3 separate regions of the Homo sapiens genome follow, and regions 1 and 2 are each linked to region 3. The links come from fine-mapping of genetic effects on gene expression. A gene starts in region 3. Each other region holds a variant in brackets. All regions are shown on one strand. Distances are from middle to middle.

Region 1 (5,344 bases), 53 kb after region 3:
TTACATGTATACAAAATATGTATGTATGCGTGTGTGTGTATATATATAGCACATTTGGGAGGATACACACACACACACACACACACACATATACACACACAGTACATAGGCCAGGCATGGTGGCTCACACCTGTGATCCCAGAGCTTTGGGAGGATCACTTGAGGCCAGGAGTTCAAAACCAGCCTGGGCAACATAGTGAAACCCTGTCTGTACAAAAAAAAAAAAAAAATTACCAAGCATGGTGGTGCATGCCTGTAGTCCTAGCTACTCAGGAGTCTGAGGCAGGAGGATTGCTTGGGGCCAGGAGTTTGAGGTTACCGTGAGCTATGATCACACCACTACACTTCAGTCTGGGTGACAGAGCGGCCAAAATGAAGTTCAATCCCTTTGTGACTTCCAACCAAATCAAAAATAGCAAAAGGCATTTCAATGCACCTTCCCACATTCACAGGAAGATTATGTCTTCCCCTGTTTCCAAAGAGCTGAGACAGAAGTACAATGTGCAATCCATGCCCATCCGAAAGGATGATGAAGTTCAGGTTGTACGAGGGCACTATAAAGGTCAGCAAATTGGTAAAGTAGTCCAGGTTTACAGGAAGAAATATGTCATCTACATTGAATGGGTGCAGCGGGAAAAGACTAATGGCACAACTGTCCACACAGGCATTCACCCCAGAAAGGTGGCTATCACTAGGCTAAAACTGGACAAAGACAGCAAAAAGATCCTTGAATGGAAAGCCAAATCTCGCCAAGTAGGAAAGGAAAAGGGCAAATACTAGGAAGAAACAATTGAGAAGATGCAAAAATAAAGTAATCTTATGTACAAGCTTTGATTAAAACTTGAAACAAACAACAAAAAAGAAAAGATACAGGCTGGGTACAGTGGCTAACATCTGTAATCTCTGCACTCTGGGAGGCTGAGGTGGACAGATTGCTAGAGTCTAGGGGTTCGAAGTCAGCTGGGCAACATGGCAAAACGCTGTCTCTATAAAAAATACAAAAATCAGCCCCGTGTGACGGCACTCAAATGTAGTCCCAGCCACTTGCGACACTGAGACGGGAGGATCGCTTGAGCCCAGGAGGCAGAGGTTGCAGTGAGCTGACATTGCACTACTGCACTACTGCACCCCTGCCTGAGTGACATAGCAAGACCCTGTCTCAAAAATAAAAGTATATATATATAAAATATATATATAATACATATAAAATATATATAATATATATGCTATATATTATATATAGTATATATAGTGTATATATCTCTACATTATATACATATCTACATTATATATAATATACATAGTATATATAGTATACTATATAGTATACATATAGTATATATAGTATATATAGTATACTATATATACTAAATATACTATATATATACTATAGTATAGTATATATATAGTATACTATATATACTATACTATAGTATATACTATACATACTATACATACTATACATACTATATATACTATACATACTATACATACTATACATACTATATACTATATATACTATAGTATATATAGTATGTATACATATATAGTCTGAGGCAGGAGGATTGCTTGGGGCCAGGAGTTTGAGGTTACCGTAAGCTATGATCACACCACTACACTTCAGTCTGGGTGACAGAGCAGCCAAAAAAAGTATATATTATATATACTATATATATATATATACACTCTATATATAGTATGTATATTATATATATACTATATATAGTATGTATATTATATATAATGTGTATATATATAATGTAGATATATACATAGATGTAGATACAGATACACACATAATTTTTAAATCTTATTTTTCTAGTTCTGATGACCTAACCAGCTGAAGATCTTGCAAACTCTCTCAGGAGAGGTACCCAAGGATCAAACCAGTCTCCTCCACCACCCTGAAAGGAGAACTTGCTTAACTGACTTTCTCTCTTCAGTTCAAGGCCTTTCCAGTTACACCAGGGTTTCTTAATCAAGGATCTTTGGAGTTCTTCATGAATGGGTTTCTTGAGCTGTCTGAACCCTTTTGAGTTATCCTCAACATTCTATTTGTGTGTGTGCATACACAGTGTTTTCCTGGGGAGTCTGTTGCTTTTGTTTGTTTCTCAGCGTCTCTGACTAAAAATATTTCTGAAACACTAGCATTCATCACTTGAAGCCTTAGGCCTCCTTGCCTAAGAACAGCTATAATTTCATTCTGAAGGAAAACCAAACTAATCTTCTCTCCTAATGACCTGGGGAGAGTTCACTTCAAGACACCAAAGTAACTTTTAGTAACATACCATGAATACTGAGCAAAAACTAATCTATCTAACCTCATTTGGCTTCCAACATCACTTGGCACCTCAGCCCATCATCTTGAGGAAAGTCAAACCTGCCATCCTTGGCCACCAGTTCAAATACAAGCCACTAGACTAAATGTAACTACTTCTCTGACATTGATGCCATCAGCAGTACCATCCTCTGCTTCTCCTCTTGACAATCACCAGAGCTCTGAGACGAGGGTGAGGCAAAGTGGGTGCCTAGGGTATGAAGGAGCTGCTCCTTTCCCACCCTGCACTTGCGTTTGCTCAACCCAAGAGTCAGTGCCTCCTCACTTTTTGCACTCAAGGCACATCCCTTGTCTCACCCTAATCCCAGCTCTATATCACCAACTATAATGCATCCATTATGACCTGATGGAAAGAGCGTCAGCCACAGGAGGAGGGAAGGGGTAGTAGTAGATTATCTGCAGAGACAGTAACCTAAGAACTAATTAGGGAAAATGAAAGAAGTCATTGCATAAAAGTGGGATAGCAACGATTAAGACTGGTGACAGGAAAAGAAGTAAAGGATCAGATATGGGTCTAGGTAAACAGGATGAAGCCAAACAGCTTAGAACATGGTGAATAAAACACGGATTCTGGGGCCTGCTCTTAACAGGTGCTGGTAGCTGGCTGGGCAAGACAATAGAACTCTTGACTTTATCTCAGCCTATTTTCAAAGAATCACATTAGAAAGTGTCCTGGTATGGGGAAGGGAGAGAAAAATCAGAAAATCTCTATAACATACAGAAATCTGTATATTAATTTTTTCAATTCTGTGAAGGCTTCTTCTTACGAGATTTCTGAAGTTGGGCCAACTAAAATTTAAGGACCCTTGAATGACTATTATCTTTGCTGAGAGAGGGTGTATGTCAAATTCAACAAAAT[T/A]AATAACCTACATTTGTGTAATGTCTTACAGGTTATGACGTTCTCTGATGCCGTCTTTTTAAATCTCAGTCATTTCTCTTTGCTTTTGCCCATTTCTGTTCCCATTTCCTAAAACTCTTTCTTCTAGCCTTCTGGTTGACACCAATTTTTTTAAAACAGCTGTATTAAGATATAATTCACATACCATGAAATTCACCAATTTAAATTGTACAATTCAATGGCTTTTAGTATATTCAAAGTTGTGCAACCATCACGACAATTTTAAAACATTTCCTTCACCCCGAAAGAAATCCTGGACCCATTAGCAGTCTCTCTCCATTTCCCACACTAACCTCCCTAGCCATAGGCAACCACAAATCTACATCGGACGGGGCCCATTCTGGACATTAATTTTTAATTTTTATTTGAAAGTGCCCCTGTAATCCCAGCACTCTTGGAGGCCAAGGCGGGAAGATCACTTGAGCCCAGGAGTTAGGGACCAGCCTGGGCAACATGGCAAAACCCCGTCTCTACAAAAAATACAAAAATTAGCCGGGCGTGGTGGTGTGCACCTGTAGTCCCAGCTCCTTGGGAGGCTGAGGTGGGAGGATCACTTGGGCCTGGGGAGGTCAAGGTTGCAAGTGAGCTATGATCATGCCACTGCATTCCAGTCTGGGTAACAGAGTGAGACCCTATTTCAAAATGAAAAAAAAAAAATACAGAAAGAAAGAAAGTGCCCTTGGGGATTAGGAATTCTTACTTTTGGAACTCCTGACCCCTAAATGGTGGATATCTGTGATAAATCAGAGAGCTGTGACAGAAATGGGGGGGGAAGGGGAAACAGTATTTATTTAACAACTACTGTGTACTAATGTGTATCATTACTTTCATAACCATCCTGTGAGTGAGTTATCATTTAGCAGTTGAATAAACTGAGGTTTATAGAAATTATGTAAGCTGGCTTGGTGTGATGGCTCTTGCCTATAATCCCAGCACTTTGGGAAGCTGAGGTGGGCAGACAGCTTGAGCTCAGGAGTTTGAGACCAGCCCGGGCAACATGGTGAAACCCCACCTCTACCAAAAGTACAAAAATTAGCCGGGCGTGGTGGCTGGCGCCTGTAGTCCCAGCTACTTTGGGAGCTGAGGCAGGAGGACTGCTTGAGCCCAGGAGGCAGAGGTTGCAGTGAGCCAAAATAGCACCATTGCACTATAGCCTGGGCAACAGAGTAAGACACTGTCTCAAAAAAAAAAAAAAAAAAGAAAAAAAAAAGAAAAGAAAAATTATGTAACCTGTCAAAGGTTATAAAGTTAGTAACAAAGTAAGATTATAAATCTTTGTTTTCTGACTAGAGCTTATTCATCTTCTTTGCACGAGAACAGTGGTTCTCGAACTTTGGTGGGCATGAGAATCACCTGGAAGCCTTATAAAACACAGACTGTGGAGCTCCACACACAGAGTTTCTGATTTACTAGTTCTGGGGTGGTGCTTAAGCATTTGCATTCCCAGATGCTGCTGCTGCCAGTCTGAGACTGCACTATGTTGTGCTGCCTAACAGTACCTGAGAATGTAATTGATTAAGGTCACAGAGCTGGATGTGACTGATTAAGGTCAGAGAGCTTTAACGTCATCCAGCCATCTTTTCAGAACAGTACTTATGATCTGACAAAGCAACTGCTGATTGATAAAAGGTGGAAAGTAATTAGAAAGGTAATACAGAGAACGATAATACTTTGGATACATGATGAAGTGTGATAACATCTATTTTTCTGGCTGGGGAATGAGATAAACAAATAGAGAACTGATCATGGTGCATGAAGCACCTAGAGAAAGAACATTTCAGTTGGGTGCAAAATGTAACGTTCCTTGTCTAGTTCAGAACTATGGCTACTCAAGGGGAGAAGGCAGGCAGACAAAGGACTGTCAACAGCAATGTCTCTTATTGTTCTTTGGCTACAGCTGCACTTGCATACTCATGCTGACTTCGTGCCCAAATGTTAACTAGGCCAGAACTTGATCAGACTGAAATCTGTAAAAGAAAAAAAAATCATCACAGATACCAAGAAAATGTATTTCCTTGAATCTGTTCTAACTCTGAATTTTGTTAAAAAATTAGATTTTTTTTTTTTTTTAGTGGGAGGAAAAGGAGGACAGCTCAAAACCACTTAAT
Region 2 (5,000 bases), 24 kb before region 3:
ATCAAGTCTCACTTCAAGCTCAAATTCCCAGGCTTTTGTGACCTTCCGACCTCGGCCTCTAGGGTAGCTGGGACTACAGGCACATGCCACCATACCCAGCTAATTTTTAAATTTTTTGTAGAGATGGAATCTCACAATGTTGCCTAGGCTGGTCTCAAATTCCCGAGCTCAGGTGATTCTCACGCCTCAGCCTACCAAATTGCTGGAATTACAGGCATGAGCCACGGCACCTGGCCACCTTTTCACTTCCATAGGCCCATCTCGAAAGCCACTTCATTCTCTAAACCTTTCTGCCTGAACCTTTCCCCACTAATCGAATGTTATAGCTCTCTTCCGGGCCTTCATAACCCTTTTACTCCTTAGTTCTCACTCTTTTTCACTACGAATGTCAAATCACCAAGTTGGCCAAATGTAAATTCTATAACCTAAACTTTATCTCAACTGTGAATAACCTAAAATTACCACATTGTTAAACTTACTTGTGCTCCTGAGCCGCTAAATGGTGCTGGTATATAATGAAGAAATGGTACTGGGAAGACCAAACCCACTCTCTACTTTTGCAGCTTTAGGCAGTTGTAATAAAGAAGGAGCCTGAGAGCTCTAAGAATGGGATGTGGAATCCATGTTTGGTTTTATCACTACTTCTCATCCCTAAGGATCAGTCATCTAGACCTACAGCCATTTAAAATGGCTTTTGGAAGATACACTGAAATTCTAAAATGAGCAACTGAAAGAACTCAGGAACAATGGGTAAACATTTCTAGTATTATAAAAGTAAAAGCTAATTGGTATGACAGCAAGGAAAAATATACATATTAAATGGTAGATGTGATCACTCACCTGTCGAATCGACATAGTACAGAGAATATACAGGAAAATGAAGGAACAGTCTGTGGTGTCATCTCCCAGCAGATTTCGATGAGACAGTCCTTGGATGTAAGAAAGAGGGGTAAAAGGAAGCTTTGCCACCACTCTACCATCAAATCTAAAAGAAAAAAAAAAAAAAAGAATTGTTATCTTTGGAAGACTGACAACTTTCTTACTTCCAAAGAAGAATCTGGGACAGAAATAGAGCTTTAAGTCTCTGATCTCTGAAAAACAAAGAGAGGGTGACATGCTAAAAATACACATGAACCTGATGTACGGTGATGTAAAGAAGAGCCTAGATTATTCTCATCAATCTTTTCCTAAATTAGTCATTCTCAATTCTTTTGGTATCAAGACCCCTTTATATACTGACAAATTATTTAGGACCCTAAAAACTTTGTGTTTCTGTAGCTTATAGTTATTAATATTTACTGTATTAGAAATTAAAAATGAGAAATGTTTAATATTTATTTTTTTTGAGACGGAGTCTTGCCGTGTCGGTCAGGCTGGAGTGCAGTGGCACAATCTCGGCTCATTGCAACCTTCGCCTCCCGGGTTCAAGCGATATAAAATCTTTTATATCTTTATATATAAGTTATTTAATTATATGAAGTTGAACATGCATGAGACTTTAAACCAGCAACAAATCTGAAAAATCTTCTGATAATTCCTTTTTTTTTTTTTTGAGATGGAGTCTCGCTCTGTCACTCAGGCCAGAGTGCAGTGTCGCCGTCTCAGCTCACTGCAACCTCCACCTCCTGCTTCAAGCGATTCTCCTGCCTCAGCCTCCCGAGTAGCTGGGATTACAGATGTGCACCACCACACCCAGCTAATTTTTGTATTTTTAGTAGAGACAGGGTTTCACGATGTTGGCCTTGATGGTCTCGATCTCTTGACCTCATGATCCGCCTGCCTCAGCCTCTCAAAGTCCTACAGGAATAGAAGCTTGTTATAAGGAACAGAAATTGGTGTCTAGCACAATAAAGAAAAAAACTGGGAAGAGAAGAAGGAAGGTGCAAAGAGAGAGATGATTTACAATAGGTGGATTATTTCTTTAAGTGCACTTACTCTATGACTCCAGAGGGCAGGATCACTGCTCACAAGTACAGATATAGGGAGGCATATTTTGGCCCAGTAAAACGAATTATTTTCAAACTCTAAAAACTACTCAATAAAAGTACTAGTTATCTCAGAAACCACTAAGCTCCTCATTGTTGGAAATAAAGGATGACAAATTATCTGTTAGAGACATTAGTGATGAGCTTTCTGTATTAGGAGAGAAGTTATGTGTTAAATGACTTTTAAGATCTCTTTCAGGCTGGGCACGGTGGCTCACACCTGTAATTCCAGCACTTTGGGAGGCCAAGGCAGGCGGATCACCTGAGGTTGGGAGTTCGAGACCAGCTGACCAACATGGAGAAACCCCGTGTCTACTAAAAATACAAAATTAGCCGGGCATGGTGGCGCATGCCTGTAATCCCAGCTACTCAGGAGGCTGAGGCAGGAGAATCACTTGAACCCGCGAGGCAGAGGTTGTGGTGAGCCGAGATCATGCCATTGCATTCTATCCTGGGCAACAAGAGCAAAACTCCATCTCAAAAAAAAAAAAAAAAAAAAAATTTCAATTCTAAAATCCTGTTATTTCAACTTTATGTAAATGATTCAGGAAGAGATGCCAAAAAGTAGATACAGCTACTAAATAAGTAGCTATATCTAGTCCTTTTTCTGGCAGTCTGGGAGTTCAAGTCCTTCCCTTCTTAGTCTAACCATAGATTTTTTTCCTTAAAGCATCTGCCAGCTGTTAACAAATTTTAAGAGTGTAAGGGATATTATTTTTGTTTGCTTCACACAGGGTCTCGCTCTGTCATTCAGGCTGGAATGCAGTGGTGCAATCATGGCTCACTGCAGCCTTGACCTCCTGGGCTCAAAGAATCCTCCTGCCTCAGCCTCCCAGGAAGGTGAGATTACAGAGGTATAGCACCATG[T/C]CTGGCTAATTTTTTTTTTTTTTTTGTAGAGCTGTGGTCTTCCTATGTTGCTCAGGCTGGTCTCAAACTCCTGGCTTCAAGTGATCCTCCTGCCTCAGCCTCCCAAATTGCTGGGATTATAGGAATGAGCCACCACTCTTGGCTTACATAATCTTTTAGTATCCCTTATAGTCTTGGCCAGGCGTGGTGGCTCATGTCTCATAATCCCAGCACTTTGAGAGGCCGAGGCAGGAGGATCACTTGAAGCCATGAGTTCGAGACCAGCCCGGGCAACATGGCGAAACCCTATCTCTACCAAAAAAAAAAAAAAAAAAAAAAATTAGCCACGTGTCATGGTGCATGTCTGTAGTCCCAGCTACTCAGGAGGCTAAGGTAGGGGGATCACTTGAGCCCAGCAGGTTGAGGCTGCAGTGAATAGTGATCACACCACTGCACTCCAGCCTGGGTGACAGAGCAAGATCTGGTCTCAAAAACAGATGATCAAAGTTAAACTTGGAGAAATTATGTTAAAGACTGAATAACTTTTGTCCAATATAATCAAAACATGTATTAGACTTTTAATTTCATATGCCAGTTTATAAAAATAGATGTACAGCCTTTAACTTCTAGGTGCTGACAATCTAAGACACAATATTTTTTTTAAATGTACAGGGTACAAAGACCAGAACAAAAACATGAATACAGCACTAATATTGGTAAAATATATTATGCGAACCTCCACTAGTTTGGGAAAACAAAACAAGCAAATAAAAAGCTATTGTTTGCCAGTGTTCTGAATAAGAAAGTTGCTGAAAATAATATACATAAAAACAAAAAAAGAAGGCCAGGAGCGGTGGCTCACGCCTGTAATCCCAGCACTTTGGGAGGCTGAGGCGGGTGGATCACGAGGTCAGGAGTTTGAGACCAGCCTGGCCAATATGGTGGAACCCCCTCTGTACTAACAATACAAAACAGAGTAGGTAGTAGGCAATGATAAGAAAATTAGCCAGGCATGGTGGTGCATGCCTGTAGTCCCAGCTACTTGGGAGGCTGAGGCAGAAGAATTGCTTGAATGCAGGAGGCGGAGGTCGTAGTGAGCCGAGATTGTGCCACTGCACTCCAGCCTGGGCGACAGAGCTAGACTCCATCTCAAAAAAAAAAAAAAAAAATAGCCTTCTTTCCTGCCAACATATCCTTTTATAAGAAACCTGATTATAATGAAGCTTTCATATAATTTTCCTCCTTGAAGATACTCTACTTGACTTCTTTGACTTCTATAGCTTGGAAGACCTATATCACACACACACACACACACACACACACACACACACAGCATCTAGTATTTTATATTGATGAACTGCAAAAATAATCTGGCATTTCAATACTGGTCCAAGGTCTAATAACTTAATCACCAAATATTTGATAAGTGCTTATTATATTATTAACTCTATTAAGGATAACATATCACATATGCTTGCATATAGCTTTGAAAACCTCCATTCTTTAAAAATTTCATAAATATCATAGCAGTGATATGGGCATTCTCTTCATCTTGTTCCCATCTTTACTGCAGTATCGTTGGTATTTTACCTTTGAGTATTTAACCCTCTTCTGGTTGTTCTAATTCATTGCACAATAGAACTAGAGAACAGTGATGGAGAGAAAGGAAGGGATGGAGGGAAAAGAGAATTTGGAAAAGATGACAATATTATTTGTCTGATCATATGATTATCTATCTAGAAAACTAGAGAATCAAATTAAAAGCTAGGAGAGTTCAGGAAGATGTCCAATTAGAAAATAAAATCACAAAAATTGATAACCTGCTGGGCATGGTGGCTCACGCCTGTAATCCCAGCATTTTGGGAGGCTGAGGCAGGTGGATCACTTGAGGTCAGGAGCTCAAGACTAGCCTGGCCAACATGGTGAAACCCCATCTCTACTAAAAATACAAAAATAAGCCAGGCGTAGTGATGCCTGCCTGTAATCCCACCTACTCGGGAGGATGAGGCAGGAGAATCACTTGAACCCGGGAGGTAGAGGCTGCAATGAGCCAAGATCGTGCCACTGCACTCTAGCCTGGGCAACAGAGAACAGTGTGAGGCTCTGTCTCAAAAAAAAAAAAAAAAAAAAAAAAAATTGATAAGCTACTTATAGACAGTAGTAGCAAAC
Region 3 (5,283 bases):
GAGACAGGAACACTTGTTGGAAACTACTGCAATAATCCATGCAAAAGATCATGGTGCTTAGACCACAGTGGTTAACACTGGAGCTAATGAAAAGTGGTCAGATTCTGGATATCGGAAGCTTTCTGAACCTTTACTGGTTTGGGGTGTTTCTTCAAAAAGGAAACCCAACAGTATCTGCAGACAGACTAGATGTGGGTTGTAAGAAGAGTAAAAGATAACTACACAAGAATTATGGCCTGAGCAAGTGGAAGGACAGAAATGCCATTGACCAAGATAAAGAAGGCTACAAATGACACAGGCTTAGACATGAGGAACAAGTATTCAATTTGGGACGTGTTGGGACTGAGCTGTCCACCAAACATTCTAGCTGACATAACAAATTGATGCGTGGATATATGAATCTTGTATTAAGAAGAGAGGGCCACAGACATAAATTTGGGAGTCACTGGCCAATACAGCCAAAAGATAAGTTCACCAAGGAAGTGAATGTAGAGAAAAAAACTAAATTTTGTGTCACTCCCAACAACGGGAGGTCAAGAAATGAAACCATCAAGTAAATTGCAGAAGAATGATCAGTAAGGGCTGGGCACTGTGGTTCATGCCTGTAATCCCAGCACTTTGGGAGGCCTAGCCGGGAGGATCGCTTGAGCCCAGGAGTTTGAGATCAGCCCTGGCAACAGAACAAGACCTCATCTCTCCAAAATATCAGCCAGTCATGGTGGTGTGCATCTGTAGTCCCAGCTACTCAGAAGTCTGAGGCAGGAGGATCGCTTAAGCCTGGGAGGTCCAGGCTGCAATGAGCTCTGAGGGGTGACAGAGTGAGACCCTGTCTCAAAAAATAAATAAATAAATAAAAAATAAAAAAAGGATGACTAGTAAGATGGAGAGCAGCAAAACCGAAAGTATGGTGTCCTGGAGCCAAATTAATAAAGCATATCAAGGTTTCTGGCTTACACTACTGGAAGCATGGAGGTACCCATCACCAAGATAGGGAAATCCTGGAAGAATATCACGTTTGTGAAGGTAAAGATAACGAGTTTGGCCCAGATATGCTGAGGTACATAATCAACACTGAGTAAATTAAGGAACAGTAAGCTGTAATTTTAAAAGCCTGAGTCTGGTCTCTAATTCTTTGTTTGCTCTGTGACGTAAGTTGTCATTATCATCCTGAGGCTCAATTTTCTTTCCTATGACATGGAGGTAATATTTATACGAGTAACCACAAATGGTTGCTGTGTAGATCAAATATGGTAATTTAAGAAAAAAAACTTCAAACCCCTATGAAGATATAAGAAAAAGTCACAGAATACAGAAAGTTGTAGGAATTCTAAGAAACAAAAGTTATATTTAATCCTTATAAGGAAAAAAAGAAGAGAGAAAACTAAATCAGGCCTATAAGGAACCATTCACCCTGTACCTTTAGCTGAGTCCTGTGGAATTCCTGCTTTATTTCAAAGGTAACAAACCCTTCTTGTTTTTAATCTTTTCCTTAAACACCTCTTCAACTTTCTAACCCAACTGAAACTCGGCTTATCTCTGAAGACACCACTTACCTTGACACCAGTCATAATGACATATCATCCTCCAAACATGCCTTAAATGTTAAGATTTCCATATTTTTGCTCATATGTTATTTCTTTACCTGGAATTTCCTTTCCCCATTTCATTCTCTATCCAAATTCTAACTATCCACAAGGAACTGCAAGGCCATCAGCATCATGAAGGCTACCATGGTTCCTCACAACTGAATGAAGCCTCTTCTTCTTTTTTTTTTAAAGACAAGTCTCACTATTGCCCAGGAGGCAGTGTAGTGACACCATCGTGGCCCACTGTAGCCTCAATCTCCTGGGCTCAAGGGATCCTCATGCCTCAGTCTCCCAAATAGCTGGGACTATAGGTGTGTACCACCATACCCAGCTAATTTTTTCTGTAGGGACGAGGTCTCCCTATGTTGCCCAGGCTGGTGTCAAACCCCTAAGTTCAGTCCTGCCTCAGCCTTCCAAAGTGCTGGGATTAACAGGAGTAAGCCACTGCGCCAGATTGAACCTCTTCTTTAGAACCACCACAGCACATAACATGTATCTGCTACGCCCCTCACTTCCCTCTAGTTGGTATTACACATTTTGCATAAAAGTCTTCTATTTCTAAATAGGCTTCAAGTCAGGTTCATCTTTGTATCAGCTGGTGCTCTTAAAATATTTATTGTGAACATGGACTTAATGAGCTTGACGTGTTGAAATTATTTCTAATGTGTTGCCATACTCACATTTTTTACTCTGTTTTTCCACTTCTGCCTTCAGTCTCTTGTACTTGTCTGTCCTGTAAACCAGGACCCAGGTTATGCCTAAAACATTAAAAGCAACATGTTAATAGAGAAATGACTGGAATGATCACAACAAACAAAGTGGTTACTGTTGGAGAAGGAGGAATTCCAACTTTTCGCTTTGTATTTACCCATAGTTAACTTTTTTCAAAGGCTAATACAACTGACTCTTCAGCCAAAACAACAGTAACATGATGTGAAGGTGTCTCCACAAATACCCAAGTGAAATCTACCTGAGACCAAAGAAAACTCGGCAATCGACTCCATACTCCCCTCCTGCTCCTGTTCACGAGTTGCCCAGAGATTCCCTGAAGTGGAGTAGATGAGCCTCTCAAGCAAGTAAGGCTCGCGATCTTTCCCCTGGTGGCACAGGGGACCCCGGGGCCCTTCCTCCCGGGGACTGATCAAACGTCTGAGAAATACCCGCTCTCACCCTCTGCGAGCAGAGCCGTGCACACAGAGATAAAAACGATGAGGAGAGTGTCCGCGAACATAGTGCTCATCTCGCACCTTCGTCTCTGCACTCTCACCCGCCAGGGGGAAAGCGCTCTACAGCCAGGAAAAGTGAAGCGAAAACGGCTTCCGTAGACTCCGCCACCACCGAGTAACAGACCAACTCTGACAGCCCGAAGATCGCACTTCCGCTTCCGGGGCATAGCACCGGAAAGGCTCGTATCGGAGAACGGTGTGGCCACGAGAGTCTAGAGGAAACCAACCCGCAACTCACTGGAGCTGAAGGGCTGGTAGTCAGGCCGAATCTCGCGAGAATTGGAACTATTTCAGAGCCAGAGGAGGATAGTGGCGGCGGCGAACTTTGCCCGGTAGATTTTACTGACTGGGGTGCTGGCGCGCGCCTTTTTCTCGGCCAGAATCCAGTTATTGGGATAGTCTTGACTTCTACCTCAGCCCAACTTCTGTGGTCGTAATATTAGTTTAGCTTGGGTTTGCCGTGAAGTAAGAAGACTGACTTCCGCAAAGGTACTGAACGACTGGGTGTAGGTGCCAGGGCATGGACGTGAAGCTGGAACCGCGAAATGAGTTAGTTGTGGGCCGCTGGCCTCAAGGAGCGAACGTCAGCGCGAAGAGGAGAAGCTTGTGCATACGCTCTGATAAGGGTTTTAATAGAGGTATTACCACAGTGCTGCGTGACACGGTTGAGAGAGTGGTCAGAAGAAGCTAATGAAAGGAATTGAAGCAGTGCCTTAGGGGAGTAGGAGTACTTTTGGAGATAGCAAAGGACTTTCTAGGCAAAGTGGAAGTCAAAGCACGGATGCCTGAAAATTCATAGTGTGATAGTGCAGTGAGTAATGTATCTAGAGAAGGGGTCTTAAACCCAGATGCCTAGACTGGCGAGAGAAAATAAATTATCTTATGCAAGCTGAGCCTAAACAAATGGTGGAAGTTACTACGATGGATAAGTGAGCATTAAGTTCATCTGAAAGGAGAATTTGATACCCAAATCCAACCCATTTCTCTAGGAGAATGAGCACCCAGTTTCTGAGATGTCTTCGTTTCTCAGGAAAATCCAGAAATCCTGGGTTTTATGTGAAACTTAATTTATAAGTGTTGCTAACTAATTAAAATTCAAAAATGTCTCAGCAGCGTGGTTTCAGCCATTGTAGACGGTTTCAGCTTTTTCACACTGGGGTGTGTGTGTGTATGGGTGAAAACCTGGAAGCTGGCTGAGCTGTATCCTCTTGTACTTCCTCCTATCATTGGTGTTTTTTTGTTTGTTTGAGATGGAGTTTCACTCTTGTTGCCCAGGTGGAGTGCAATGGCACAATCTCGGCTCACTGCAACCTCTGCCTCCGGGTTCAAGCCATTCTCCTGCCTCAGCCTCCCAAGTAGCTGGGACTACAGGTGCCCGTCCCCACGCCCAGCTAATTTTTTGTATTTTTAGTAGAGACGGGGTTTTGCCATGTTGGCCAGGCTGGTCTTGAACTCCTGACCTCAGATCCACCCACTTCGGCCTCCCAAAGTGCTGGGAATACAGGCGTGAGCCACCGTGGCCGGCCCTCATTGGTTCTTTTAAACTGTACTGCACTTAAATATATAATTCTCCTAAACACTACTTTTGACTTTTTTTTAGCTTTATGTGCATTTCTTGTCTCCCAGACTTAGCAACAGAGACCCTGTCTCCTTTTTAAGAAACATTATTGAGCTTCTACTATATGTCAAGAACTGTGGTAGGCACTGTAGGGTCAAAAGGATGGTTAAGAGAATATTCCTGACTTCTAAGGGCCCAGGGAGATTATATAATATAATAAGATTATAGGTATTATAGAGGTATTCTTAAAATGTTGAGGGGGTACAGATGAAAACAAGATGTATTCTTCCTGGGGAGTTGGAAAGGTTTCAGAAAGATCATATTTGAGCTAGACCTTTATTTGAGCAGTTCAGACAAGGATAGGTTTTTATTCACCTTTGTATCACCCAAGGTAAGTGCTGAGATAACAATAAGAGCATGATCTTGGAAATCAGACCTGATTTTAAATTCTTGCTCTGCCACTTACTTGACAGCAGTCCTAGAACCTATTGTTTAGCATCTTTGAGCCTTCAAAATGGTGGTAACATCAGCTATGAAGACTGGATGAGGAAAAGTATATTATAAAGCATTTCAAGCAGTGCTTGGCACACACAATTCATCAAATTCAACATGCTATTCATTGTAAGACGCATCATTATTTTATCTACTACTAAAGAGGAAAAAATAACTAATTAAACCATGACACACCATTGATTGTAAGAAGAATCCCATTCAGAGATGTTAAAATATGAAAAAATGAGAAAATATGAAATATATTAATAAGCAGTTAAGTTATTCCTGTGTAAATGTTTACAACCATGGACTGCTAGGATACACTTCCTTTTCTAGGGTAATGATGTCATGACACTATGCCCCTTGTTTAAGAACAGTGCTAGAAGTCAGGCGCGGTGGCTCACGCCTGCAATCCCAGCAC

Alleles and levels. Positions count from the first base shown, and alleles are read on the strand shown. Sizes are in standard deviations (SD) of each study's normalised expression.
With allele T in place of A in region 1, the expression in stomach of the gene that starts at base 2,943 in region 3 is higher (small effect, 0.23 SD a copy in GTEx).
With allele T in place of C in region 2, the expression in fibroblasts of the gene that starts at base 2,943 in region 3 is lower (small effect, 0.28 SD a copy in GTEx).

What was found.
Region 1: its variant is fine-mapped to the expression of TMCO1 in stomach (GTEx, PIP 0.99).
Region 2: its variant is fine-mapped to the expression of TMCO1 in fibroblasts (GTEx, PIP 0.91).

Annotation. Positions count from the first base shown.
Region 1 is chr1:165,818,981-165,824,324 of GRCh38, forward strand. It overlaps the pseudogene RPL26P12. Among named protein-coding and RNA genes, the nearest start is that of UCK2, 6.0 kb to the right of the region's middle. The variant T/A (reference allele first, on the strand shown) is at 3,198.
Region 2 is chr1:165,742,327-165,747,326 of GRCh38, forward strand. TMCO1 (transmembrane and coiled-coil domains 1) reads right to left here. Exons shown (of 7, transcript NM_019026.6): 6 at 841-985. Among named protein-coding and RNA genes, the nearest start is that of TMCO1, 24 kb to the right of the region's middle. The variant T/C (reference allele first, on the strand shown) is at 2,853.
Region 3 is chr1:165,765,926-165,771,208 of GRCh38, forward strand. It overlaps TMCO1 (transmembrane and coiled-coil domains 1), which reads right to left and starts at 2,943. Exons shown (of 7, transcript NM_019026.6): 1 at 2,757-2,943; 2 at 2,267-2,344. The coding sequence starts at 2,826. TMCO1-AS1 (TMCO1 antisense RNA 1) reads left to right here and starts at 3,004. Exons shown (of 3, transcript NR_125374.1): 1 at 3,004-3,450. RefSeq lists enhancers at 2,554-3,230, 3,231-3,906.